7 linked regions of the Homo sapiens genome follow. The protein of the gene in region 7 purifies or fractionates together with the protein of the main gene of each other region. This does not show direct contact. Each region holds a gene or a part of one and is shown on either strand. Other genes may lie near its edges. The genes, in order: FZD3, GINM1, STK39, UBE2Q1, NOCT, PCDH7 and CSTL1.

Region 1 (4,212 bases), on a different chromosome or scaffold from region 7:
TCCTGTGCATGAAAATAAATCACCTGATAGTTTATTTGCTTATATGGGTAGGATTTCTTATTGGGAAATTGATATAAATACAATACTTTAATGTATTTAACAGATATTTATTGAGCCTCTAATATGTGTCTAATAGCGTAATGTGCTGAAGATATAACAATGAACAGAGATGGGTTTTATCTGCATTGACAAAACAAGTATGAGAAAAAAGGGATATAATATAGGATGGTGTGTGTTTATTTCTATGTGGCAGACTCCTATGATTCCTACATTATTATATGAAAAACTTACAATATGAAAACATTTAAAAATGCAGTGCAGTAGTGTTAAATAGACTGTTTAAAGGGTCTGGAAGATGACAAAGAAAATTATAATTAATCAGGTACTAATGACAGAAAAGAGAATTATTTAATTTTATTAAAAATCTCCAATTTATAACCAAAATATACAACCACTACATTTAAAATCAGTTTGTACACTCACAGTTAAAGTGCTAAGAAAAAACATTTACAAAAACTGACATCAGTCTACTGTAAACAAAATAAATCTACAAGAGCAGAGTGCAAAGCACATCAGAGAATGTGAAATTCCCAGTTCATGCTCTAACCAAGTGCACTTGCCCTGTACATCCCAACAACAGCAACTTTTCCACTCATTTGGAAGTGAACAATTTTAATAAACATATAAAAAAGAAACATGAAGAACTAATGCCACAAAATACAAGTCTTTAGCATAAACACTTTCTAATTAGATGTTTATATGATAAATCAACATTAGACATTTAGAATCACCTCAGCAATTTGATTCAGAATAAAGTTTGGAAAACTAAACTGCTAAGTGCCAGCTATTTAAAAATGACATATTTTTTAGAATAATGAAAAGGAATACTTTTTCTACCTTTATAGCTCTTGAAAAATTGTAACAGTAAAATGGGGAAAGACTTTTTTTTTTTTTAACAAGCATGGATAGTATTCATATGTAAAGGTAGTATCAATGAGAAAGAGCTGGAAGACAGACCTAGCTGTCTGTCAGGTAGAATGAGGGTGAAGGAGATCTAGGATGCTTCAGGCATTGCGCTTGAACTTAAAAAACAGGATCAGCAGGCCCTGACTTCATAAGGCCCATAAATACAAATGACTAGCTCCCTTTCTCAAGGTCATTGAAAATATACAGTAGTTTCAGACATCACATGGGTTTGGGCAAAGGGGGCAGATTTCCAAGCTAGGTCACTTAATGGTATCTCTTGCCTCAAAATAGTCCCATCAACACTAATTTAAATTATTTCCACTTTTGTTTTAAAGCTTAAGATTCTACTCACTGACATTAATTTGAGCTAACAGCAATGTGTTTGCTTTTAATGCAGATTTCTCTTTAAGAGAGATAAAAGGGCTATAGTCACTAACACTTTAATATAAATTAGTTAAAGCAAATTTCTAACACTTGAGATAGGTTATATTTTGGAAGTATTGATAAGAATGACTAGGGGATAGAAGGCAGGTAAGGAAGTTTTGGAGAATGCAGCATTTGAGGAATAGGTCACATGAAGAGGGTATCATGAGCATATTGCCTAGGAAGAAGTGTACCAAGCAATTATTGAGAGATCAAAGTAACCTTTCTCCACTATAAAAATTTATCCAAAACCAAGACACCTGGAGTACCTCTATGGGGTGTACTAGATTAGCTTTTGTTGGCTAATCTTTTACCCTTATTATTCATAATATTATTTATATGATGAGATGTAGTCTGAATTTGGAACAACTCTTTTTACAACCTATTAAATCACAAAATTGGGGATTTCCTGTGTAGGAGTTTCATATTTTTTATATGATCTTCAACTCATATACTTTTATAATGAAATAAAGGTAAAAAGAAAATCCTTAAATGGCATTTTATGGCAAATTTGTTTACTACACCACATAGCAGTATTCATTAATTTAGAATGCCTACCAAGAGGATAACATTCCAGTTGCCAAAATTTGAGTCCACATTAGATGTGAGGGGGAAATTATTTTGCCTCTAAATGATACTTACAGATGAACCCTTTTATATTAGGTTTGCACAAACCTAATACATAACAATATCTCAGATTATAAAAGCTTTACGCACAGATTTAGTGAAAGTCTTATGTAACATATATACTTCCAAAAGGTATTTGCTTCAATTATGAAGTCATTTTGATAAAACACTTTTAAAAACTGGGAAATTTAACAACAAAATAAAGGATAACTTTTTTTAAGGAGAATTTTCTTGATAAGATTTGTGGTTATCTGTAGAGTCTCCTTCATAAAGCCTCTGATATATTGATAGGGTTAGGATGAGAAGTTAACATACCTATTCTAAAAGATCTTTTAAAGTTTGGTTCCTTCTTGAATATATCTATTATGAAATTGCTAGCATCTGATCATTTTTGACCAATAAAACCAGCAATTTCAGATAGTTCAGAATAATGCTGTATTATCCAACTACGACCATGTAGCAAAAACCTCCTTGTCCTGACTCTAAGAGAGAACAGCTGATCTACAGGAGGAGCGATCCACATGCCGAGATGACCGCGATAATCTAACAACACTGTAAAAAGTTAAGAAAACAAGATAAAACAAAAAAGCCTCAAAAAACACCTCACATTAAATAAATATGAATCTTGGGTATCACAAATTACAGAGAGTGAAATAACTCATAATTACTATTAATTATGATACATTTACATAAATAATCCCCAAATTCACTATCAGATTAAAATACAAAAAAGTATTTTTTTGGTAAAGTATTTTAATTTTGACGAAACAGCTTCCATTGTTCTATTAAATAACAAGATAAGATAATTTAATCGTTTTTGAGTTGTCAAACTTTTCTTTCTGGGGCTAGAGGAAAGGATGGTGGGTGGTATCAATATCAATCTTTACTATGCCAAAGTAAATGTCTAAACCAGCCATTCCTTCATATATGTGATACTTTTACACTTCAATGAGAAAATAAAACACAAAAATACAATTTGACATTTGAAAATAAAAGCAGAAAAGTTGTTGGAAGTTGGGGTTAAAGACATGAAATGGGGTGATTCTAGGGAAGTTAAATATTATAAAAAGATGAATGATACGAAATTTGGATTTAGTCTAACTCACAGCTAAGGTAGAAATAGCACCTGATGGCAAGAGAATGTCCAGACTAATATTTTCACATTGGGGAGTCCCATATATGATTTTAAAAATTTTAAGTTCATATAAAAAGAAAATAGAGTATTTTTAAGTATACATTCACCTCAGCTCAATGTAAAGAACTACTGTGTTGATCTTGTCTCAGAAATACAGAATTATTTCACATTAAATGTTTCTGCTGACAAGATGAGTTCAGGGAAAAATTATCTGAGGCAGGGATAAAGGAAGACATTTGTTAATTTCCTTTTAAAAATGGAGAATGGGAGGAGTAGAGAAATAGGAAAATGGTGGATGGCTAAACATAAAGTAAATCACTCTAGGATTACTTGCTTTATCTTACAGAATATCCCATTATCAAAACCCAGAAAATATTAAATGAAATATTTGAATCTCAGATTCAATTTAACAAATGTGATCACAAAGACTTGCAGAGGCAGAGAACTAAAAACAAACCTTTTCTTTTTTTTTTTTTTTTGGTAGGCAATCGAAATAACATAATAATACAGGCATCTCTGAATGAGAAAGGCTGGGCATCTAATATAATTTCTGAAAGCCAGGACAGTTACATGATCCAGTGAAATGACATAAGACAAGGAATAAATGTAGCTAAAGAATCACACCAGAAACCAGTATACCTTCCTATATCAACTTTCCACTATTCTCTACTCATCAGATCCTAACCCAACACCCAGATTTGAACCAGTGTTCAAAAGACTGATATGAGCTAATGTAGACAATCAGAGCAAACACAATGATTTTCAAAGGTAACAGGAACTTCCTTGGCCTAGTGCACAGAGAACATTTAATCTACCAGAGAACTCTGCGGAGATATGGAACTAATGCAATCTCTACTTTTTTTTTTTTCTTTTTTTTTTTTTGAGATAGAGTCTCGCTCCGTTGCCCAGGCTGGAGTGCAGCGGTGCGATCTCAGCTCACTGCAAGCTCCGCCTCCCGGGTTCACGCCATTCTCCTGCCTCAGCCTCCCGAGTGGCTGGGACTACAGGTGCCCGCCACCATGCCCAACTAATTTTTTTGTTTTTAGTAGAGACAGGGTCTC
Region 2 (4,212 bases), on a different chromosome or scaffold from region 7:
TTACAGCAAGAATCTTCAAAACATTAAATGCAGCAACAACAACAAATCTTCTTTAATTCTTTAAAGAAACTTTTTCTTTAGTTGGTGTATTTGTTTATTGCTGCATAACAGTTTAACCCAGAAATCAGTGGCCTAAGACAATATTTATTATTTCATAGTTTCTGTAGGTCGAGAATCTGAGCTTGGCTTAGCAGGGTCCTGTGGTTCTCAAAAGGCTGCCATCACGTCAGGGCTCAGCTGGGAAAAATCTGCTTCCCAGCTCACTCATGTGGTTGTTGGCAGGAGTCAGTTCCTTCTGAGCTCTTGAACTGAGGCCTCAGTTCCTCACCAGATGTTGGTTGAAGGTCTTCCTCAGTTCCTTGTCACACGAAGCTCCCCATAGAGCATCTCACAACATGGCAACTAGCTTCATCGAGAGGACAAGAGAGACTGCCAGTAAGAAAAAGAGTACTAGCAAGACAGAAGTCATAGCCATTAATAATCTAATTGTGGCAGTAACATTCCATCACTTGGGCTATGCTCTGTTTGTTAGAAACGAGTCACTAGGCTGTGTGCATTGGCTCATGCCTGTAATCCCAGCTATTTGGGAGGCTAAGGCTGGAGGATCACTTGAGGCCAGGAGTTCAAGACCAGCCTAGGCAAGATAGCAAGGCTGTCTCTTTCAAAAGAACAAAAAAAGAAAAAAAAATCATTCATAGATCGATAGATAGATAGGTAACTAACTGACTAGTCACTAGGTCCAGCCCACTTGAGGGAGGAATTGCAGAAATGTCTGACTCCTTAGAGGCAAGGGTCATTGAGGGGCATTTTTGAAAGCCGCCTACCACAGTAAGGAAGTCAATATGAAGGGCTTTGTTGTTTTTTATTTAATTTTATGCTGTATTAGAGGTACTGTATGAGGCTCTTCTCACATTGCTATAAAGAAATACCTGAGACTGGGTAATTTATAAAGAAAAGAGGTTTAATTGGCTCATGGTTCTGCAGGCTGTACAGGAAGCATGGCACCAGCATCTGCTCAGCTTCTAAGGAGGCGTCAGGAAGCTTTTACTCATGGTGGAAGGCAAAGGGGGAGCCAGTATCTCACATGGCAGAGCAGGAGCAAGAGAGAGCAAGAGTGGCAGTGGGGTGCCGTAACCCCAAGCCATGAGGGATCTGCCCCCATGGCCCAAACATCTCCCACCAGGCCCCGCCTCCAACATTGGGAATTACATCTCAACATGAGATTTGCGGGGAACATCCAAACTATATCAGGTACCAAATTTGCAGGCTGAAGAATTGCCACTTGGGTGTATTTTTATGACTGCATTTTCTCACCCATTGAGTCTCCTGTACCTTAGTCTTTGGGCTTACGGACATGCTGACACAGCGCCTGCTGTTCCACGAAGGAGACCCACGGGTGGTAATGGTCAGTTAAAACACGGGGATGGACCATGAGAGAGGGGGTACCTTTGACAGTGGTGCTTTTCAAAGGGCATGAAGGATTAGGCACACTAGAGAGAGGAGCAGCGAGGGGCCAGATGAGGAGCCTGAGGAGGACCAGTGAGAGGACCGGGAACTTCACAGAAGTGCCACTAAAGGTGTGTGAGCAGGAGGCTGTGGACTGAAAACCACGTCACAGTGAGACGAGCTTGGCATGTTGTCTGAATGGTTTGGCGGCGGGGACTAAAGCAGGGGAGAATAGGTAGGTATATCTTGTAATAGTAAGTAGTTAATGAACTAGATATTGAGATATTCCAGACAAAGGAAGTAGCCCTATAGATGCACAGAATCAGACTAAACAGCTGGGTGTGCATTCAGATTGTATATCTGGATTCCTGTTTGGCAAAAATCTTCAGATTATTTGAGGGATAGAAATAAAATGCTCCATCTGTGACAGGTGCATTGGTGTATGTTGTTTTATCTTTTTCGATAGCACTTCTACCTTAATAGAGTAGCCGTTGGCTCTGTAAACCAGCTGCAGCTACTACACCCCGTTTCTACTGGAGCAGGAGTAGAGGTTTCCTAGCTAGAGAAGAACGTGGACAATAGCTAGTCCTACCCCATTATCGATTACCAGAGAGAAATGACAGGCCTCCCCCACCCTCTTTCCCCATTCCTGCTCTCTCTAATAGTAATGAGTCACTAATCGGGGAAAGGATTGATTAAAAAACTCAATGTTCTTACTGCTTGGGCATCTTCTCTCACAGGATTTTGTGGATGGATGAATGTATGTGCTTATTATGTTAAAACGTGGGATTGGCTGTATCTTCTGGCTGGCTTTATAGTTGTGCCATGTTGGTTCCTCATGGCCAACCTGTATAAAAGAATAGGAAAGATGGGCCAGGCGTGGTCGTTCACGCCTGTAATCCCAGCACTTTGGGCAGCCAAGGTGGGTGAATCACTTGAGGTCAGGAGTTAGCAAGACCAGCCCGGCCAATATGGTGAAACCCTATCTCTGCTAAAAATACAAAAAAACAGCTGAGCATGGTGGTGCAAGCCTGTAAACCCAGCTACTTGGGAGGCTGAGGCAGGAGAATCCCTTGAACCCAGGAGGCAAAGGTTGCAGTGAGCCAAGGTGGCACCACTGCACTCCAGCCTGGGCGACAGAGCAAGACTCCATCTCAAAAAAAAAAAAAAAAAAAAAAGAATAGGAAAGATGTTGCTAGTGTGGTATTTCATACAAAGTCTAAAGATCAACACATTTTACCCTTTCAAATGAGTGTAAGCAGTCATAAAGATTTGTCAGATTGTCTTTGTTTTTAATAAATCTGAAACAGCATTGAGGTCAGGGATGAAGAAAGCCAAAGAAATGGGTTTTCAACTGTCTTGTTCCATGTAAATGTCATCAAAATAATCACACTCACTCACAGATTTGGTGGTAATCTTTGTTCAAAGGTGTCACTACTTTTTTTTTTATAGTGAAGAATGAAAATCTTGAAAATTTGGAGGAAAAAGAATATTTTGGAATTGTCAGTGTAAGGATTTTAGTTCATGAGTGGCCTATGACATCTGGTTCCAGTTTGCAACTAATTGTCATTCAAGAAGAGGTAGTAGAGATTGATGGAAAACAAGTAAGATAGTATGTTTATTAATTGGGAATTAAATGATATTTAGATTTGTGCTAGATATTATGCATGTGTTCAGTTATTTTATTTGTTTCCGACTTGATAAGGAAGGTGCCTAATGTTGCCTATATCCAATTATTTAGAATTTTTGTATATTTATTTTAGCATTTGAAATGTATTTTTAAAATTTCCCATATTCATACATGTTTGTATCACTTTAAAATGTACAGACATTATTAAATAGAAAGTAAGCAAAGAGATTCAATTTGGCTCATAGTTCTGCTACCATTTCCTCTATGGTAAATGAAGTCTCTGTGTGTAAATGAAGTAGAATCGAGATTAAGCTTATAATAGTAAGTGTTAAAGCAGGACAGGAATATTATTAAAGTTGCAAGTTAAGTGCCCCAAAGTGGGAGTACGGGGAAATAAATAGTAATTGTTAGCTGGGCATGGTGGCTCACACCTGTAATCCCAGCACTTTGGGAGGCCAAGGTGGACGAATCACCTGAGGTCAGGAGTTCTAGACCAGCCTGACCAACATGGAGAAACTCCTTGTCTCTACTAAAAATACAAAGTTAGCTGGGCATGGTGGCGCATGCCTGTAATCCTAGCTACTCGGGAGGCTGAGGCAGGAGAATCGCTTGAACCCAGAAGGCGGAGGTTGCGGCAAGCTGAGATCGCACCATTGCACTCCAGCCTGGGCAACAACAAGAGCGAAACTCCATCTCAAAAAAAAAAAAAAAGAGTAATTGTCTGAATAGGACACATGTTTTAGTTATATAAATCTGGGAGGAAAATTTGCTTTTAAATTTTTATGGGGCTGTGCTACTATTTAAAATAAAGAATAATTATATTTTCTTTCACAGGTTCAGCAAAAGGATGTCACTGAAATTGATATTTTAGTTAAGAACCGGGGAGTACTCAGACATTCAAACTATACCCTCCCTTTGGAAGAAAGCATGCTCTACTCTATTTCTCGAGACAGTGACATTTTATTTACCCTTCCTAACCTCTCCAAAAAAGGTAACTTAAAAGACCATTATTTAAAGTATTAAGGAGATTATTTATTTAGTTGGTAGCTTTATATACTCTTGAACTTTGTTATTTTTTACACTATTTGCAAAAGTTGCTATTTATCTTTAATAGTTAATATGTTTGGAAATGAGCT
Region 3 (4,212 bases), on a different chromosome or scaffold from region 7:
GGGCTGACCAGCCTTCACATTTCAAAGGCAGTTCACTGCTATTTTGACCCTTTTAGTGAGAAATCATCATTTCATCATAAAACAGAAAATTAGTTGTACTTCCTTATCATCTTAGAGCAAGATTAATGGCAAGTTAGCTTCCAAATTCCATAATTAATAAGTATTACCTTTTGATAAGTCATAAACTCTCCTCAGAGCTGAAGCTCTTGCAGGACAATTTGAGGGTCACATGATCTCCAGTCAGTGCAAGGGAGTATCACTGTGATCCTGTTAGTCGTAGTAACAGAAGTAATAGTAGTAATAGTAGCAACAGCAGTAGCAGCAGCAGCCATGGTAGAACAGCAGTTATTGATATTTACTGCTTGCCTATTATGTGTTGGCCACTGTTAAGATCACTGGACCTTGATTTCATGAAAGAAGATGAAGTAGTTTATATTTTTACCCTTCTTTAAGGAAACTGAGTCTTAAGAAGGTTTGGTAACTTGCCCAAGGTGGTACAGCTACTAAGTGGTGGCCTCAGAATTTCGATCAAGTCAGCTGACACCAGAGCCTGCACTCTGAACAACTAGACTGCTTGGGGCTGGACAGTTTGAAATCTTTGCCCACAGATGTCTCTTAGCTGTTACTTGTTTAACTGAAGTACTTTTTCAAACTGTCCTTAGCCTATGGGATAAGGTCCACTCATGAGGACAAGATATGCACACACAAAGCACTAACTCAGATGGCTCAACAACAAAATCCAGCCTCCACGATGAGGAGAGGCACCAGAGTCGGGGGGTGGGGGTGGGGGGCAGCAGATGAATCAAGAATTGCCAAAGATTGATAATTATTGAAACTAGGTGATGGGTACAAGTGGGCTCATCTTACGCGTCTCTGCAATGACAGGGTCACTCCAGTAGAGGGAATGACTGTCTAGCCAAAAAATGCCAAGAACACTCCCCCAAGAAACCATGAAAGCTAAAAGGATTGCTGAGACAGACTTTCAACGACATGGGTAAAGCAAGAGTTAATATGGGCGTGGCTACATCTTATCCCAGGCCTTTAAGGTTACTCTAGGGCCAATAACAAAATAGAGGCTTTGAACACGAAAGGTGCTCACCTGATATTGTGTGTTCATGTAAAAGACATTCATTGCATCCCCAGCCTACCAGCTTTGTCAAGAATAGCCATGTTGGGTCAGAGTTAAAAACAAAATAAGGCCCAGATTTTTAATGTTCACAATTCTTTCAGATACCTCTTAAGAAATAAATTAGTTTTTAATTGATGTGTATGATGTTTTAAATTTTCAAACCTATCGAAAAATGTTTTTACAAGTGCATTTCTTGAAGTTATATGAGTATTACCATTATAAAATGTGAAAGGTAGAAAACATAATAAAATTGAAAATAAAATTATTCTTTATCAAAAAGCTATGTACTAAAATGGCATTTTTCACAGGATGATCTAATGACTTATCAAAACAATAAGGAAAATATGTTATCCTTCGGACCCAAACATTCTGTAAATATCATTCTGAAAAGAGATTACATGCATTTATTCATTTCTCAGGAATGATTCTACATTCCTTGAAACTGTAACACTTCCGTAATCAAGTAAAAAATTTTTCTATTTATCAGCTTTACCTGCTATTTGTACTGAACCATCCTCACCCAGAAGAATATTACCAGCTTTCAAATCCCTATTAGAAAAAAAAATAGAAAATAAATTGTAGGGTACAGACTTTATAGTGTATTGATTCACTCAGGAAGATTTTAAAACATATCATACAACGCAGCTCTTTGACATAATAATTTCATAAATATTAAGATAATAGCACAGATTTTAAAAGTTATAAGGATAGGCTGGGCACAGTGGCTCACGCCTGTAATCCCAGCACTTTGGGAGGCCAAGGTGGGTGGAGCACCTGAGGTCAGGAGTTCGAGACCAGCCTGGAAAAAATGGTGAAACCCCATCTCTACTAAAAATATAAAAATTAGTTGGGCATGGTGGCAGGTGCCTGTAATCCCAGCTACTTGGGAGGCTGAGGCAGAAGAATCACTTGAACCTGGGAGGTGGAGGCTGCAGTGAGCCAACACCGTGCCACTGCACTCCAGCCTGGGCAACAAGAGTGAAACTTGGTCTCAAAAAAAAAAAAAAAAAAAAAAAAAAGGTATAAGGATCCACCTGTCACTTTATAGTTTACTCGTGGGGGAGAGTTAGGATTTTAGAAAGAAATATTTTCTATGAAATAATTATCCAAATTTAATTAAATCATCAGTAAATAGACTCTCTATTTTATGCTTCAGAGTTAGACACTGCCCATAAACTCACACTACTGTCATTCTACCAAGTATTAAAGCCCAGTCTATGTAAAGCTCCTCTACTTCCACTTAAATTTGGGATGCAATTCCAACTTAATTATCTTTCTGAAAAATGAACTTCTCTCTGGTGAGAGACTGATTATAAATACTAATTATAATAATAGATATTATATTTCTTCACCGTATAAAACCTGTGTAATCTTAGTACTTTGAAAAATGACAACTTGCAATTTATAAATTTGATTTCTAAAGTAACTTTTTTCTAATTATTGAAAAATATAGGCCAGCCACAGTGGCTCACGCCTGTAATCCTAGCACTTTGGGAGGCTAAGGTGGGCAGATCATCTGGGATCAAGAGTGTCAGTCCAGCCTGGCCAACATGGTGAACCCCATCTCTACTAAAAATACAAAAATTAGCCAGGCATGGTGCCGCATGCCTGTAATCCCAGCTACTCGGGAGGCTGAGACAGGAGAATTGCTTGAACTCGGGAGGCAGAGGTTGCAGTGAGCTGAGATCACACCATTGCACTCCAGCCTGGGCAACAGAGCAAGACTCTGTCTCAAAAAAAAAAAGAAAAAGAAAAATATAGTAGAAATAATTAAATATAAATTTCAGGGTAGGAGAATTACATTATTAGTATTACTGGTAAATGGCTATTTACTTGCAATAATTCCTAAGAGCCCAAGTAGCACTCACTCACTTGAAACATCAAGCACTCATATTCTATGTGATTTGACTATGTAAAGAATTAACATTTTATGTCACAAAAGAAGATGAGTACCTCTTCCTTCCCTCTCACCACCACATCAAAAATAATTCACATAGTACAATGTTTGGATAGTCTTGCTTGTATTAGAAAGATAGAGATGCTGTCTAGTTCAACTAGTATAATTCAAGAGTAGTTACCAAAACTGATCTTTTTAAATGAGTCCATGTAGTCCTTTTTAGATTCCACTCTTATTTCAGTGAAAGCAACTGAAGCAATCCCAAGGATACCAATATAATTCATCAAAATTTATTCTCTTGTTTCTTTCTTAAGTACTTTTTTCCCATCTATTTAGACTAAGTTAAAGTAATGTCAATACCTGCCTGCAACATGTGTTTCCTTAACATTCTTTACAAACTAGGGCTGAAGATATGAACATCTGAATTTAAACATCTCTGCAGAGGTCACACCTGTGAATCTGACCGTTTCTGTGTAGACAGTCTAAGCCTTCCAAAACCTCTTTAAGATATGAACATCTGAATTTAAACATCTCTGCAGAGGTCATACCTGTGAATCTGACCGTTTCTGTGTAGATAGTCTAAGCCTTCCAAAACCTCTTTAAGAATTGTTGCTATTATTGCCTCTTCCAGAACTCCATTCTTGTGTTCTCCTCGGTTGACAATGTATTTTATGATATCCAACATTGAACCTAAGTAGACAAACAGAAGAATTAAAACATAAGCACCTTCATCACCTTTTCAGAACAAGACTCCATTATGTATAAAATTTAATAGAAACATCAAAATATGGGCTTTATTTAATGCAAATATTCCCAAGGCAAACAAACAATTGAATGGGGGCCCCATGACCAAAAACACTAAATCCAAGTTTGCAAGAGCACTTTCAGTGTGAATTTAACGAGAAGGATTCTGGGTCAGGGACCAGAAGGCTGTTCATGGCCGTTCCATGGCTGGTTCCTTTTCTGGTTACAGTATTTCTCACAAAAATTCCTAAGAGCAACCCTCCAAAGAGGGTGCAAAAAGTCTGAACTGACAAAGAAAGGAGTATGAGGCCAGGAGAAAAGGCAGAAGTGAACTGCTGAGAGAAAAAAAACACACTCTTTGAGGACCTAAATCACAGGTGGGAGGGGGAAAGAAGTATGTTGTTTCTAGACCTCTGCTTATAACCGGAAGATTCCTTCCTGT
Region 4 (4,212 bases), on a different chromosome or scaffold from region 7:
ATAGGAGGGCCCTTGCCCTTTGCCCCCAGCACTGCCACCACCTGTCTGTCTAGGTCAGTGGGTGCAGACCCAGCCCAGCAGAATGAAAGGGCCACATCATGTCTATCACCCAGCCCGTAGGGGTGTGTGCTGTAAAGCTCAGACAATCCCCGCCCAGGCCGGCCTGGCCAAGGAGGAGAGACAGGCTCACCTGTTTGGTGAGAAGTTCCATGCAGATGGCCCCTCCGCCCAGAACATACCTGCATGAGAAAGGTTAGTCAGCTGTGCCTGACAAAATCTCCAAGTCTCTTCCCCGCCCTCTGCCAGAGGAGATGCCCTCTTCCGCATGCCAGCCACTCACCCTCCAGAGAGGACTGGAGACACAACCCTGACAAATGGTGGGTCAAAGGGAAAGTTATCCTGAGAGAGAGAGAGACGACAATCAGGGGAGGGAGGCCAGCATCCTCCACAGGACTGTCAGGCAGACTGGGCAGCCTAGGCCAGAGGGAGAGACTGGAAAAGAAAAGTCTTACTTTAAAGGAAAAGTTAAGTAGAATGAAGTCGGCTCCTTCTTTCTCTTTGAGGATCTGGAGATCGTTGTGCAAAGCGCTGTCCTGGTCAACTCTAAGAAGCAACAAGCCTGGGCTCAGATGCCTGGTTCCACCTCAGGAGCTTCATAAGGGCTCCCCTGCCCTGGCTGGCAGCAGACCACGAAACCACTGCCCACACCCGCTCCGGGACCCTGAATGAAAATGCTGGATGGGGCTGCCCTGGAGATCCCACCACAGTAGCCCCACTCACACTCCTCCTCAACTTCCTCTCCAATCCCAGAGTCCCCACTCACTTGAGGAGTTTGACATTCCAATCATACAGACTGTCATTCACGAGTTCGACTGCATAGTTTCCTGGAAGGAGGGAAAAAACAGGTGTTAGTAGAATGGTCCAGGTGGTGAGTGGTCTCTAATGCAGACCCCTTTCCCAGACTGAGAGAAAAAGATCAACAGCTCTAGGTTCACCACAGATGGACATGCAACCAAGCCACTGGCTTGAGGAGCTCCATTCTTGGCCTGAAAAGTTCATAAGCACTCCTGGACCCCAGAACCTCTTGGGCCCCTTGCCACCATACCCTTCTTTATGGGTGACTCTTGTGCAGGCCCCTCTCTGGGGCAAACTCACCGCCTTTGAAACTCTGTGATCGGTATATATCCCTGAGCTCCTTCATCAGCCGGTCAGTGGCCTGCACCGAGCCAGACACTGCACCCTGTGAGGGACGGATGACAGGAACATTCCTTGGTCGTGTGGTTTATAAACACACGTTAGACCTTAGGGGCAGTCTGGCAGCTTGCCCAGGATTTAAGAAAGGATTAGGCACAAAAAAGGAGTCTGCTCTCCATACTGAGATGCGATGGCCTACTACTTCCCAGCCATTTCCCACCAACCCCTTCACCAGCCTCTCTCTAGAAGGCACGTACATTTAAGTAATCTTGCCTCTGGTTCTTTTTAATTTTCTCTAGGATGGCCAAGTTTTCTTTTCCAATGCCATCATCTTCAGATTTCTTGCCCTCAGCTGGCTCTTCCTCTTTCATTTCATAGTGATCTAAGTCTTCTGTGTCCTGGAGGAGGTGTGGGGTGGGAGTGAAAAGAAAAGGAAAAAAACCGACACAGGTTAGAGAATGACCATCACCTTCCCAGTCCCATTTGGCGAAGAGCCAAAAGTTAAAGTGAAGCAGTCCATCTAGCAGTCTTATAAACGCAACGTGCTTTCCATTTTTAGAACAATTTCCAGCCCCATTCCCTCCACAGTCTAAATCTTCAGCTCTCAAGCTACAGCAAGGACTTCGGAAACGAGCAGAGCTGCAGCTGAGATCGAGGCAGGGACTTAGCCCTCTTGTTTCCTGGACTGACCCTGCTCCAACTGTTCCTAAAACTCCCTTGGCAGCAGAAACTCTTCCCTAATTCCTAGCAGAAATGACTTGGGCCTGACCCTGTGACTCAAAGCTCATGTTTCACCAGGTGACTATTGCACCCGGGAGTTCTCAGGGCCCCAAGCCTAAAGGAGAAACCTGAATCATTACATCTCCTCTCCTCGCTACAAATGCAAGGCATGAATCAGGTATGCAGAGGCACGCACTGCCAGATGGAAATGAGAAAGGATGTCCAGAGAGATATATGGAAGAGGTCAAGAACAGAATTAGCCCCTTATTCATCCTGCTCTAAGTGAGCAAGCAACTAGCTCACTGAGCATAGGGAAGGAGGAGAACCTATGTAGGGTTGAGCCCCTCAGCCAGATGTTGGGGGTGTGGCCCAGAGGGCTGTCCACTATCTGGGAGGAGTAAATTTCATGTCGTCAGCCCTTTGCCAGTCTCAAGAACCTTACACGGTTATAGAACCTGGGATATTAATCTAATGCTAGGAAATAAAAGTAATCAGAGTGATCTCCCCATTTCTGGCAGGACATACCTAATTACCACACCAGCAGGTAATGTCTACTGAGTGTTTATTACATGCCAGGTTCTGTCCTAGGTGCCGCAGATACTAGCTCATTTCATTCTTACCACCATCACTCATTATTCTATCATTATCCATTTTATAGATGCGGAAGCTGAGTCTAGTGAGGTCAATTATCATGCCCAAAGTCACAGCTCTTAGCAGAGCTAAGATTCAGTCAAGTTCTGTCTAGCTCTAAAGCTCAAATTCCTAACCATGATTTTATATTCTGTATGTTTTTAGAGAATATATCAGATAGATTGTTTAGCATTTATCATGTATCATCTGAAGCATTTTATATATAACACCTCATTTAATCTCAAGACAACCATATGCAGTAGGTATTATAATCCTACTTTATAGATAAGAAAACTGTAGCTTAGTGAGATTACATAAAATTCCTCAATTAGGATAGCTAGGATGCAAACACAGGTTTGTTGGACTCCAAAGCCATTTGAAATTAACTTACCCAGTATTTGGTTTGAACCGCGCTGCACCTGTCTTCAGTGGTTGGATATGGGTGCCCTGTCTCCTCTACTACACTGGCTATTCCTCCAGGTCAGTAAATCTGTCTTTATTCCTTTGATATTTTTCTCTCTCCAGTTTTAGACTGGAGTTCTGGATATGGGTACCAATGTTGCTGACTGCAAGAGCTTCCAGCCAATGCCACCTCAGGGGGCAAGCCTACCTCAGGCATCTCCTCATCTTCATCTTCTGAAGACACGTCTTCCTGTGTGCACTGCAGCAAGGAAGGGAAAGATGGAGATCAGAGCCCCAGTGGCTTGCTAGAATGCAGCCTCCAACCTACTCCCCTGAGCCCCCAGGTCTGGAAGTTGTGCGCCTGCCTGTAATGCTGCCAGTCTCTCCACCAGCCAGATCTGAGTGGAAGCAACAGCCCAGGGAATGGCTTTGCTACCAGCCCATTATTTTTCGCCTATCACTGCCAAAGAATAAAAGAAAAGCAAAATGGCTGTCTCTGTCACCCACCTCCTAAATCCTAGTTTAATTCTCCTAAGAACCCCTCCTTTACTTGATCTTCTTTAGACTGATATTGCATTCTTGGTTCTCACCAAGGGGCCTGGGTCCCCAGTGGCCACCAACTGTTATTGCTAAGATAATGGTAAAAATTCCCCCGCTCCCTTTCAACATCTGGGATGCTGCCCATGAGAATGAATTTTGATATCAGAGATGAAGCTACCAGTGCCCCATTTAGCAAAAGAAGATTCCCATCTGGAGAAGAACGAGGGTGAGAGTCATAAGACGTGTATGTTTTTGGGAGCCGGTGGGGATGGAGAGAAACTACTGATTTGTCTCAATTATTTACTGAGTACCCTGTGGGGCAACTCTGCACAACAGGGCCCGAGGCTCCTCAGCTGCTCACCTGCTCTGCTGGCAAGGGTTGATCCAGCATCTCCACATCTGGATGCTGAGGGAGGTTATAGAGTTTACACAGGTCGGAGATGATCCTCTTCAGATGCTGCAATAGCTACAGGTAGGGGAGCACAGAGACATCAAATCCTTCCCCACTCCGATCTGGATAAGTGCATGGATGAGCTCTTAGTTTGGGCCCCACACCAATAACTAGTTCTCTAAGCCTTATGGGCCACGTGGCTGTGGGAATGAGTCTCCTGATGGACCAATCCCAGGGCCGATGCAGGGTCTCCCTCTGGCTTCAGTAAGCAACTCCCCCGAGAGGTCATCCCCTAAATGTTTAGCTGTGTACCGTCCACTTTTCAGGATCCCTTT
Region 5 (4,212 bases), on a different chromosome or scaffold from region 7:
AAGCACTTATTTTCATGGACTTGCCAAGAGCTCAAGAGCAGCCTGGGCAACACAGTGAGACCCTGTCTCTACAATAAATAAAATAAATATTTTCCTTTCTGCACAACTCTCCACAATCCAACAGTGGTCTCTAACTTTTGGACAGGAGAATCACATCACTGAGAGACTTAGAATAGGCTTCTAAGCATTTAGTAAAACGAGCCTCCTCACAGGTGTCCGCCTGTGTTGTCAATATGTGGCTGTTGTCTACCCGGAGCCTATGTCAGAATCAGCAGATGCTCAGGCCCCACTTGGAGATATTAAAATCCAGAAGATCTGAATGGGACCCACGCATTTTTTTATATACTGGAAGGAGAAAAAAATTGTTATAAGGACATTCAAATTGGATGGTACCAATTTTGTTTAGCCTTCTTTCCCCTGGGCACTGTTGCCCACATACCTGACACTGAATTCTTGCTAAGTATTAATATATGATTCAAGTGTTGCTTTGAGGCCACATAGATACAGAGGACAGCTAAGGTTTTCACTTGAGGTCTCACTCCCTCCGTGGGAAGGCTGATTTTCTCCCATTCTAAGAATAACAATAAATAAAAAGTATCTTAGCTGCTTTCCGTGGAAGTCCAAACAGGTTTACTATGAGGCTAAACGCCCAGGCACACTGTCCTTCAAATTTCTAATTATCTACTGAAGTATAACCACCACTTAAGTGGCTATCAAAGCCCTATAAACTCTAATTAGTGGCCGGGCGTGGTGGCTCACACCTGTAATCCCAGCACTCTGGGAGGCCAAGGCGGGTGTATCACCTGAGGTCAGGAGTTCGAGAGGAGCCTGACCAACATGGTGAAACCCTGTCTCTACTAAATACAAAAAAATTAGCCGGGCATGGTGGCGCATGCCTGTAGTCCCAGCTACTTGGGAGGCTGAGGCAGGAGAATTGCTTGAACCCGGGAGGCACAGGTTGCAGTGAGCCAAGATTGCGCCACTGCACTCCAGCCTGGGCAACAAGAGCAAAACTGTCTAAAAAAAAAAAAAACCAGAAAAACTGTAATTAGTCACCAGTGACTCCTGACAGCAAATACAGACGCTGTATCTCCCTTCCTAACTCCAAGAAGCCAGAACACAATTACCTCACTTTTCTTTTAGTAAACATCATAGAAACCTCATTTTACTCTAAGTTGTGACTTAGAGTGACTACATGGATACACTCCCATTACAACCTCAGTCTCAAGTTTCCTCTCACTGAACTTTCATTAATATGCAAATTTCTTCCCTTTTTTTTTTCTTTGAGAGTAGCTGGGATTACAGGTGCGTGCCACCACGCCCAGCTCATTTTGTATTTTTAGTAGAAATGGGGTTTCTCCATGTTGGTCAGGCTGGTCTCGAACTCCCGACCTCAGGTGATCCGCCTGCCTTGGCCTCCCAAAGTGCTGGGATTACAGGCTTGAGCCACTGTGCCCGGCCCTGGAATTTCTTCCCTTTCTTAAAAGCTGCTTTTGGCGGGGCGTGATGGCTCATGCCTGTAATCTCAGCACTTTTGGATGGCTGAGGCGGGAGGATTGCTTGAGCCCAGGATTTCGAGACCAGCCTGGGCAACACGGCAAAACCCGTCTCGACAAAATATACAATTTTTTAAAGCTGCTTTTTTCGGGGGTCAATGTTCTTTCTCAGGGGTCTCTTGAACTGCCTTAGGCCCCAAGCTCAAAGATCCTTTTTTTTTTTTTTTTTTTGAGACAGAGTATTGCTCCTACTGTCGCCCAGGCTGGAGTGCAATGGCGCAATCTCGGCTCACTGATACCTCCGCCTCCTGGGTTCAAGTGATTCTCCTGCCTCAGTTTCCGAAGCAGCTGGGATGTACAGGTGTGCACCACCACACTTGGCTATTTTTTTTCTAATGTAAGTAGAGACAGGGTTTCACCATGTTGCCCAGGCTGGTCTTGAATGCCTCAGTTCAAGTGATCCGCACCTCGGCCTCCCAAAGTGCTGGGATTACAGGCGTGAACCACTGTGCCCGGCCAGACCAAAGGTCTTAAGGCTCTTCCAGAATCCTCTCCAGAGCTTCTCAAGCTTTCCAGGAATAAGTACCTTTGGGGAAAGGAGGGGCAGAGCTCATAAATACTCCCTAATCTTTTTGGAAGAATCCCCTGAGGCACTTGTTAAATATGCACTCCACCGGGCTTCTCCACAGGAAACTGATCAAGCAGAGGGCTGAAAGGCCAGAAATCTGCATTTTAACAACTGTCCCAAATGATTCTGCCTCTACCCCTTTTCCTAAGATGCTTGCCACAGCTCCTGCATGCGAGCGCCACCTTCTTCCAGGCATTGTGTGTGTGGTCTTCTCTGCCTGCCCCCACCACCCCGCAAACTGTCCCCTTCCAAAACACCCTCCTTTTTCACCTATTAGAAGCAAAGCATTTCTTGACAAATTCAGCCACACTGATTTCTTTCTTCTCAACTCCCACTGCAATTAGTCATGTCACCTTTTACATGTACTATTCAATAAAGCTTGTGGATAAATTGCTATCAATTGATCTTATTCATTTGTTCTAGGTAAAGTCTAGTGTTGAGACAGCAAGCAAGGTTAAATGATTTACAAATGTTAAGTGTGTGGAATGTGAATCTGGAGCCATGGTTATTAACCCCAAAGAACCCCAGTTCACCATGTTTAAACTGTTGCCATTGAATGCTAACAGAAAAATCATACATTAGTTTTCCCACAAGGAAAGCAATTTATTCCATAGCAGCTTGATAATGACAAGCTTTCCCGTTTCTTCTCTCTCATAAGCAGTTTACTCACATAGTTAAAGGACATATTAAATAAAGCTGCCTTCTCAAATGAGCTGGTGGCATTTGCCTATAAATTGTACCATGAAAAAAAGCAAATGTTCTAATGGTAGAGAACAGTAGTTCAGCCAGCTCTTCATTCTCTGAGGAGGAGGGATGTGGAGGATAGCATTTATAAATCCACAGATGACTTCCAACTGCGTTTCATCCAGTACAGTAACTGTGGCAACTGCTACTTCTTAGGGGGGCTGCTATCCTTGAGAAAAGAAAGCCAAACACCGAGATCATCCCTAGGGTCACCTTTTAATTCTAACAACCTGGAATCTGATAACTCCAAAGGGACTGTACTTATCTTCCCAATAACTACCAATTGCCAAGGGGCATAAGTTATGCAGGAACTGATTAGCAAATGTGGACAGCTGTCGGGACTCACTACTCCCCACCACAAGGCTCAGGAGTGGAGAGGAGCTTTTGGCCCCTTCAATGTCTCTCTCACATATGGGTGCCAGATGTCCAAATTTGAGGGCATAGAAGAACAATCTGGAGTTATTCTTTTTGTCATTTCATTTGGTTATGTGGAATCCAGGGCCCATCATGAATGACTCAGACTTAATAGGTCTACAGTAGGATCCAAGAATCTGCATTTTAAAAAAGCACTTCATAGGCTGGGCGCAGTGGCTCACACCTGTAATCCCAGCACTTTGGAAGGCCAAAGCAGGTGGATCACCAGAGCTGGGGAGTTTGAGACGAGCCCGGGCAACACGTTGAAATCCTGTCTCTACTAAATACAAAAATTAGCCCGGCACAGTGGCGTGTGCCTGTAGTCACAGCTGCTCAGGAGGCTGAGACAGGAGAACTGCTTGAGCCTGGGAGGTGGAGGTTGCAGTGAGCAGAGGTGGCGCCACTACACTCCATCCTGGGCAACAGTGCGAGAGAACCTTGTCTCAAAAAAAATAAAAATAAAAATTAAAATTAAAAAGCACTTAGTGCTGGGTCTGAGGCTCTTTGGAAAACAATGTCCATTTTTGCAAAGTGCCTCTTCTCTCACCCTTCCTCATCTGTGTGTGTCTCATGCCTTTCTGCATTTACTCCTGCTTTTTCCAAACAAAACGCTTTATAGTAATCTCTTCCAATCCTAACCATGCTTCAAGAGCCAGCTGAAATGCCACCCATTTCTAGAAGCCCAAAAGGGACTTCCTGCTTTCCTGCACCCTTGTGCCATTTCCAAGTCAAGAGAATAAAAGGTGTTTCATTTCATTAAACAGCCATTTCATTGTGCAAATCTCATCTCTTACTGGGCAGTAAACTCCTTAGGGACTGACTAAAGCTCATGTTTTTAACTCCCATAATAAAGCACCTACATTGTGTGAGACATTCTGTAAAGATCTGGAATGAGTGAACAAGCAATGAATGAATCAATGCAGGCATGTT
Region 6 (4,212 bases), on a different chromosome or scaffold from region 7:
ACAGCATTAGAGTTCAATACAAACATCACTACATTCCTGAAAATAAACCTTGATTCCGCCTTTAAAACATTAATTCACCAGAAGTGATAATTAAGATTAGTTTTAGTGGTTTCAGCTCAATTCTTCTTAGAATGTGATTTTTCCCACAACACTAATGCTAAATAAAGCACAGTGTAATGTACCGCAAAAGAGTCACTGCTTTAGAAAAGATTCTATGGGTTTTTTTAAAAAAACTAAGAAAAGCAAAGCTTACTCTAGATATATGGGAACAGCTCTTACTATTTCTATAGAGTCATAGTAAATAAATGAATGGGAAACCTTGCCATAGTCTAGAAATCGATTATACACTCTTTATACATGACTATTCTAAACAAAGTCATGTTATATATTTAAAGTTATATATATATTTAAAATACTGTATATAATTATACTAAATCTCCTACATAATCTCCACCACCACATCCTCCCAGGAAAGAAAAGATGTTAAAATGTTTAATAGAGTAGATTGCTGTGTTGAAGTAATGGCTTTGTCACACTATATTTAGTTTTTAAAATAGTTCAGATTTTATTTTTAAAATTAATAGATTCAATAATTTATATTTTATCACTGTGCAAATTTAGAATCTAGTACACTAGATTGGTTAACTGCCTAACAAGGAAGCAATCCAATTGAAAGTTAACAAAATGTCATATTCTTCTAAAAACTTGCTAGAAAACAAATTAAGAGAAAACATTCGTGCATGACTGTGTGTTAAGGATGCTACTAAAATAAAATGTATGTGCAAAGTTGATAAAATGCACACAAGCCCAGAAGTCAAAAGTAATTATCAATATTGATGAAAAAGGTAAAAGATTATCACAATTAGAATGCATAAAAAGTTTCATACATAATGTGTAGAATGTTTTAATTCTTTTCTATTTAAATGAATTTTTATTGAAATATACTAATTGCTAGGAAGGAACTTATGTCTGTTATCATTGTTCTGCTAATATTAAAAATTCTGTCAACAGAATATATGTTCTTAACCATGTTAAGATGCTTTACTCTATGTTATCAATTACAATCCTACATGAGGGAAAAGAATTATTAACTTCTTTAAAATTCTGTAAATTTTGAATTATATTTTCCCAGATAATTTTACACAGAAGAACTGGAGCCTAAAGCAGAATTATAGTCTATTGTAAAGATGTCAATCTTCATAGCCAAATATATAGTCATAAATAAGTAAGTAAATTTCAACAGATTTCTACTGCAATTGAAATACACACACAGAAAGTTACAGAAATTCAGTTTTTTTCCCCCAAAGGTAGTATGATCAGATAAATAAGAATACTGGACACTACATTCCATAACTTGGACTCTAGTCCACATTATATCCCTGACAATTTTGTAATCCCAATCAAGTCACTGTTTCATGCTGGGCCTCAGTCTCCTCTTCTATTAAAATGAGGGGACTGTTTGACACCTTGTAATTCTAAAATGTGATGATGCTAGTGATTTCATGTACAGTCATTAAGCTGTTGATTATAGTATATTTTATTTCAACATTGTGTATGTTTAAGCTTAGATATTTTTCACATATTAATCTATAAACATCATGACTAAATAAAAGACTAATACAGCTATAAATGGTATACACTAATATGTGTGTATATGTCTCTGTGTGTACAGAGTTTGTGATATAAACCATGTTCACACTTTTTCACATACGAGATATGTAATTACTCAAAGATAGAAGGATAAGAAAAAATGATTTTGCCATATTTATTGTACTAGATGGCTCATTAAAATATTTAAACTGACTTTGTGGTCTTACATCTAAGTCATTAATTGGTTTAGGATAAGTTTTGGATAAGATTCAAATAATCATGTGGACTTCCATATAAATTTGCAAATTCATTGCGGATCAAATCAATGGATGACCTTTTCCTTATTTCATAGACATCCAGAGATCCAGATAGTGTTGCTTTACTAGATGACTAAAGACACAGCCTAACTTCCATCAGCTATTAGTGTTTTGCCTATGGTATCAGGCCAAATGTAACGGAAATTACAACATATGCAGATTCATTGTGCCTTATGAAAACATCCTTGGTTATAGACAGGAGAAAAACATTGTAAAAATTATGCTTACAGAATGAGCACTGGAAGCTATGGTTGGCATCACTATGTAGATGCATTTCCACTAAAGAATATATATATATGCTCTCTCTCTCTCTCTCTCTCTCTCTATATATATATATATATATACATATGTATGTATACACACACACACACACACAAATGAATTGACATTTAGTTTTCTTATTGCTTAATAGATGACAGCAAGTCAACCATTTGCTTCCAAAATTGAAGCAATTAAAAAATTCTCCCAAATTTTTTCACTAGGTATACAATGAATATATTGAACATAATTCGATCACTAAAGAGAACATTATGAAGACAAACTGAAACTGTCACTGAAGTTAATGTAAATTTTTTGTATTTCAGGATCAGCTGCAAGTGGATTTTAAAATGGATGTTTATTCAAACTAAGCTCTTGCCAAAAATAAATTACCTTACTTTCCATTTACTAAATACAATAAAATTTTTACTTGTAAGTGCATTATCTAAATAACAGCCTATCAAGGATAAGCTCAATAGAATTCAAGAATAATAAGCAAAATAGTAACTGTACTTTTCATACTATCACTCTTTGGGGGGATTACATTATTTTAAAAGAAAATTGAAAAATGCTTAGCACATAGTAAAATACCAGAGACTTAAAAATAAACAGAAAAATAGAATGCGTATGCCTTTATGTTATGAATGAAAAACACAGTTGTACTTCTAGTTCACAAAAGTTTAACAACTACCAAGACCAGGTTTACCAAGGAAGAATGAAACAGAAAGGTGGATACTTAATCTCAATCATGCTGTCAATGATCCACATTTTGCTCAGCTAAACACATTATTTAGCTGAGAGCAAAGGCTTTTGTTTGAAATGCAAAGGTATGAACTATGAAAATTTGGGCTACATCATCAGTGAGTTTTTCTAAAGTGTGAATTTCGGAAATAATTCCAGCAACTCTACCACACACATTTCCTAGAGTCTGCCATAGAAGCTTGATTTGAATGGCTCTCAAGTCTATGTAAACAAAACAAAAAGTAAGCAGTTAAGGGAGAGTATTATTTACAAACTTTCATTTCTACAAAGCTGTTTAACCTATTATAATGAAAACAACAGGACTTAGGTTCAACACTTTAAAATGTCTAATTTTCATGAAGATAAGAACACTCTTAAGAAACATCACTTTAATTTTTTCACAAATAAATAACTGCAATAAGGCAATTCAGGAAAACTATAAATAAAATGAATGTAAAATGAAATCTCAATTTTTAAATTAGACCCTGCTGTATGGAATTGAAAGAATACAACAGTCTAGTTTTACCTTAGATAAATCCATTTATCAAAAGAAGGAAATTCCCGCGAAACCCTGAATTCTCTTTTTTTCTTTTATAACATCAGGTTTAATCAAAGAAAATATATTTTGGCAGTTCTGTAAAAATTAAAGGTCATATATTTTAAAAATAAAAATAGGAAATTGTCTACTTATGGCACAAACAAAAAGCAGAACAAAAAGGATCCCATTTATGTCAGATGTCAAAACGGAATGTAACTTTGTAAATGGATCCCTTGTCCCCTGACAGCAATATTGAGGAGATGAAACATATCAATTACTATTACTAATTACATTAAGGGGAATGTGTTTCATCTGCCTTTATTTCATTTTAGGTCAGCTATTTACTTGGGGTTAAAAGTGTATACTTCTTTTGAATATGTAATGACAGAAAAGTTTTCCAAAGTCACTTTTGGCAAACTGTGTGATTCATTCCAATTGCTTTGAGGGTTTTCTCTTTTGGAATGTGGACTTCTTTACTCAGTTAAAAGGCTAACACCATATATTAGTTTATTTATAAGCATATCACTTTGCCTTTTAAACAGGATGCCAACAGTCTTGATATTAGCTGTTTTAAATATTCAAGCATATAGAGCTAACCTCATCTGATGAGCCAAATGAAGCTTAAGTAACAGCACAGAACATATGAAGTGTTTGCATAAAATATCCATAAAAGTGTCACTTGATATGTCCATTCAAAAGCATAAGATTACACAATTTAGAACGCAAATGCTATCCAGACACAGGACAGAAGTACCATTAGGATAAGAA
Region 7 (3,458 bases):
CACAGTGTTGTGTGTGTGCTGGGAAGAAATAGGGCTCCCCACACTAGGGTCAGAGCTCAGGGACATGCTAAATTCAGAAAAGCCATAGAGATGTGGGGTGGCGTAGAAAGAATGATGAGGTTTCCCCAATGATTATGAACATTCTGTTCTAATTGCATCAGCTGGGTGGGTGCGGTAGCTCACGCCTATAATCCCAACACTTTGGGAGACTGAGGCAGGAGGATTACTTGAGCCCAGGAGTCCATGACCAGCCTAGGCAAGAAAGGGAGATATTGTCTCCACAAAAAAAGTGTTTTAAAAAATTAGCTGGACAAAGCGGTGTGCACCTGTAATCTCAGCTACTTGGGAGGCTAAGGTGAAAGAATCACTTGAGCCCGGGGAAGTCAAGGCTTCAGTGAGCTCCACTTTAGCGGAGGCTTCAGTGATTGCGCCACTTCTCTCCAGCCTGGGCAACAGAGCAAGACTGTGTCTCAAAAAAAAAAAAAAAAAAGAAAGAAAGAAAGGAAAAGAAAGAAAAGATTGCACCAACCCCTGAAGACCACTGAATGTGTGTGCGAGTGAGTGTGCATGTGCTTGACATGTAGGAGTGAGTGGGTGGGCGGGTGGATGAGTGTGTGAGGCTGTTAAAGTGAATGTGCATGTATGTGAGTGGTGAGAGTGTGAGGGTGTCGTGAGTATGAGCATTGTGTGTGTGGGTTGTGAAGGTAAGTATGTGCAAGTGTGTGTACGTGTACACTCTGTGTGTGCATGTGTGTGTGTGCATGTGTAATAAGACCCCAATGAGGGAGACATGATCCTTTACAGTTTAATAACAGCCAGTGCACAACTCAATCATATGAGCCCTCATCTGAGGTTTCTGCCCACATGCTCGGCCTCCAGACAGGAATTGTTCCAGAGCTGGAAATAGTTTATCCAGGGCATGGTGTATATCAAAGACTCGCAAATTAAACTCTGTAGAAGAAGAAAGAAAACAGACTTTGGGGGAAGTATTTTTCAAAGGCAAGCAACAGGCACCTGTTCCCCAGGTCTCTCCCTGTGGCTGCTCATGAACCCCATGGGCAGAGAGGGGAGCTGCCCACAGTCAAGGGTAGAAACAGAAAGGAGTGCCAGTCTGGAACAGGAATGTCACCCTGTCTTCCCCCTACCCAGCCACTTGGGACCCACAGCAGGTGAACCTGGAGTCTATGGCCTGGCCGGACCCTGTCATGTGGGCCAGGCAGGCCAGCAAGGAGCAATAGCATCGTTACCTCCTCCTGCACCTCCCCAGGCATGGGGGAGCCCCTTGTATCTGCCAGCTTTCAAGGGGTGCCACTCATGGACCAGGAAAAATAGAAGGGAACAAGGAGGAAATTGGACAACCTTAGAGACCTGGAGAGGGAGAAAGAAGACAGAAGAAGGACCCCAAGGAAAGGGAACCACTGCTTTCACGCAGAGGGTCTGGGGAGCAGGCCAGGTTGGAGAAGGGTCCAGGCAACCAGAGGCCTGGGTGCAGGGCTGTACCAGCCCAAATATAAAGCCTCCCTCCTTCACCCAGGTGCCTCAGGAGGTGCCAGACAGCCCCAGGGCTGGGCCCCAGCTGGCCCCAATCCACACAAGTGGCAAAACTGCCAACTTCTAGCTGTTGCTTTTTAAAATATTCACTTCACAAGTCCCTTTGGGATGACTTCCACTACACACCTTTCTCAGCTTCTTGCTTTGCAGGGGGCAGGAAGAATTGCTCGTGTCATTCCTCTTGCATTTGGTCCAGCCAATCTTCACAGTGACTATATACTCCACTCCCGTCGTCAGCTGCCGAGAATCAGTTGTGCTGTTAGTGTGGACTCCAAGCATCCAGTGGCTGACCCTCTCCTGGAGAAGCTAGGACTGAGAGTAAAGCTCCCAGGGCCACAGTTCTTGTTCGCGGAGCTTACCCACCAAAAGCATGGCTCCCTTCTCCTTACTTCTGGCTGGAGGGAGGGCAATGGCAGCCAAAGCCCCTGGTCATAGGTTGGTTTTGCTGCAGCAGCCACAGAAAGCTTCTCACCTGCCTCTGTTCCATCCTCAGGACAGAAGAGGCAACATCAAGCTGGGTTGCCTGGCCACCACAGGCCACTCCCAGGCTGGCAGATGTGGCCTTCAAAATGCAACAGAGCCAGCATCTTGTCCCCACCCCCCCAGTCCCTTCTGCCATTTCCTCTGTCTCTACTATCCTTCCTGACCAACCTAGTGGAAGGCAGCTTAGCAATACAGTTAAAAACAGTTTTGGAATCGAATTGATTTGGGGCATGCATTTTCCATTTAGTGACTGTGACCTTGAGCAAGTTACTTAGCATCCTCAGCTTTTTCACTTACAAACTACAAACCACAATTGTGCCTGCTTCTGGAGTTGTTATGTGGGCTAAATGGAAGCTTGCATTTCCCTGAATGCATAAAATAAATTTTAAATATTTTCATAATTATAAGTTATTACATCTTTTAGCAAAGTGTCTGCAGTGTTACTTTGAAGCAGATTCAGTGTTAGGAGAGTGACAGAACACAAAATCTGGCTTTACCCCCTGCAGACTCTGTAAATTTTACTGAATCTCAGTTTCCTCATCTAGGAAATGAGGAGAATAATGCCAGTTTCCTCCTAGCGTGTACAGAAATGAAGGAAGGAGGCATGGTGGGTACACGAGCCATGGAGAACGCATGCCAGGGATTTCCCCATGGCTCTTTCACTTGTGATCAAGTGTGAGGCCATGAAGCCTGCAGGGGTTGGAGCCTGGAAAAGCCCTTGTGGGCAGGGAGGCCCTACGCCCAGAAGGGAGACTAACAGAGAGCTTGGGGGTTACGGTTCCCTGTCGGGTTCTGAGCTGGATTCCTGAGTAGATATGTGGATTAGTGGATCTTCACCGGTGCAGGAGAAGCTCTGGGAAGCTCCCTGTTGCCTTGCCCTGTCACTGGTCAAGCCCAGTGAGAGGGCTTGGTCATCTCTGGGGTGGTGACTGAGGCAGAGAGTGCCCACACTGCTCCTGGGAGGAAGACACCCTTAGCAAACACTGGGACAGGGCAGCAGGGAGCCTAGACCTGAGGGCAGTACCAGCCTCCCCGCACCCAAACATGTGGGGGCCATCCATGCATGGGCATTTGCAGGGCTGCCCCAGGCACGGTCACACTGACTTTCAGCATGCTCAGAATGTAAGAAAAAACTAAACCACCCGTCATCACTGTAACTGACATTCCAGTGTGCAAAGTGTTATTCGTTATTAGACTTATTTGTTCGATAATGACAGGAGTAGTCATAATAACAGCAAAGATTTTTTATAAGTGCTACCAGATGTTGGCACTGTGCTAAGTGCTTCCCTCCTATTCTGAGGCACTTTGCAGGTGAAGAAACTGAGGTCTGGAGAGTCTGGATGTCACTTGACCAGGAGCCTCAGTTGGGAGGAGCTGGGCGTGAAGCCCCCAGAGGCACCTGGCAGCCCTCCACGCCTGCTCTT

Evidence for each region.
Region 1: the proteins of CSTL1 (region 7) and FZD3 purify together in Homo sapiens (affinity purification with mass spectrometry; one large-scale study listed by BioGRID and IntAct). This does not show direct contact.
Region 2: the proteins of CSTL1 (region 7) and GINM1 purify together in Homo sapiens (affinity purification with mass spectrometry; one large-scale study listed by BioGRID and IntAct). This does not show direct contact.
Region 3: the proteins of CSTL1 (region 7) and STK39 purify together in Homo sapiens (affinity purification with mass spectrometry; one large-scale study listed by BioGRID and IntAct). This does not show direct contact.
Region 4: the proteins of CSTL1 (region 7) and UBE2Q1 purify together in Homo sapiens (affinity purification with mass spectrometry; one large-scale study listed by BioGRID and IntAct). This does not show direct contact.
Region 5: the proteins of CSTL1 (region 7) and NOCT purify together in Homo sapiens (affinity purification with mass spectrometry; one large-scale study listed by BioGRID and IntAct). This does not show direct contact.
Region 6: the proteins of CSTL1 (region 7) and PCDH7 purify together in Homo sapiens (affinity purification with mass spectrometry; one large-scale study listed by BioGRID and IntAct). This does not show direct contact.

What each region holds. Positions count from the first base shown.
Region 1 is NC_000008.11:28,570,446-28,574,657, reverse strand, and holds the end of FZD3 (frizzled-3 isoform 1 precursor), read right to left. Parts: 3' UTR 400-4,212; downstream 1-399. UniProt on the Homo sapiens protein: Receptor for Wnt proteins.
Region 2 is NC_000006.12:149,575,924-149,580,135, forward strand, and holds part of GINM1 (glycoprotein integral membrane protein 1 precursor), read left to right. Parts: intron 1-2,898; coding exon 2,899-3,050; intron 3,051-3,910; coding exon 3,911-4,067; intron 4,068-4,212.
Region 3 is NC_000002.12:168,160,165-168,164,376, forward strand, and holds part of STK39 (STE20/SPS1-related proline-alanine-rich protein kinase), read right to left. Parts: intron 3,717-4,212; coding exon 3,575-3,716; intron 3,569-3,574; exon of another isoform or gene 3,558-3,568; coding exon of another isoform or gene 3,478-3,557; intron 1,679-3,477; coding exon 1,623-1,678; intron 1-1,622. UniProt on the Homo sapiens protein: Effector serine/threonine-protein kinase component of the WNK-SPAK/OSR1 kinase cascade, which is involved in various processes, such as ion transport, response to hypertonic stress and blood pressure.
Region 4 is NC_000001.11:154,551,581-154,555,792, forward strand, and holds part of UBE2Q1 (ubiquitin-conjugating enzyme E2 Q1), read right to left. Parts: intron 3,953-4,212; coding exon 3,848-3,952; intron 3,449-3,847; exon of another isoform or gene 3,206-3,448; coding exon 3,155-3,205; exon of another isoform or gene 3,070-3,154; intron 2,093-3,069; exon of another isoform or gene 2,029-2,092; intron 1,593-2,028; coding exon 1,452-1,592; intron 1,241-1,451; coding exon 1,156-1,240; intron 885-1,155; coding exon 824-884; intron 604-823; coding exon 513-603; intron 400-512; coding exon 341-399; intron 240-340; coding exon 191-239; intron 1-190. UniProt on the Homo sapiens protein: Catalyzes the covalent attachment of ubiquitin to other proteins. May be involved in hormonal homeostasis in females. Involved in regulation of B4GALT1 cell surface expression, B4GALT1-mediated cell adhesion to laminin and embryoid body formation.
Region 5 is NC_000004.12:139,018,586-139,022,797, reverse strand, and holds part of NOCT (nocturnin), read right to left. Parts: intron 1-4,212. UniProt on the Homo sapiens protein: Phosphatase which catalyzes the conversion of NADP(+) to NAD(+) and of NADPH to NADH. Shows a small preference for NADPH over NADP(+). Represses translation and promotes degradation of target mRNA molecules.
Region 6 is NC_000004.12:30,726,317-30,730,528, reverse strand, and holds part of PCDH7 (protocadherin-7 isoform d precursor), read right to left. Parts: intron 1-4,212.
Region 7 is NC_000020.11:23,442,264-23,445,721, reverse strand, and holds the end of CSTL1 (cystatin-like 1 precursor), read right to left. Parts: intron 1,789-3,458; coding exon 1,678-1,788; intron 952-1,677; coding exon 844-951; 3' UTR 792-843; downstream 1-791.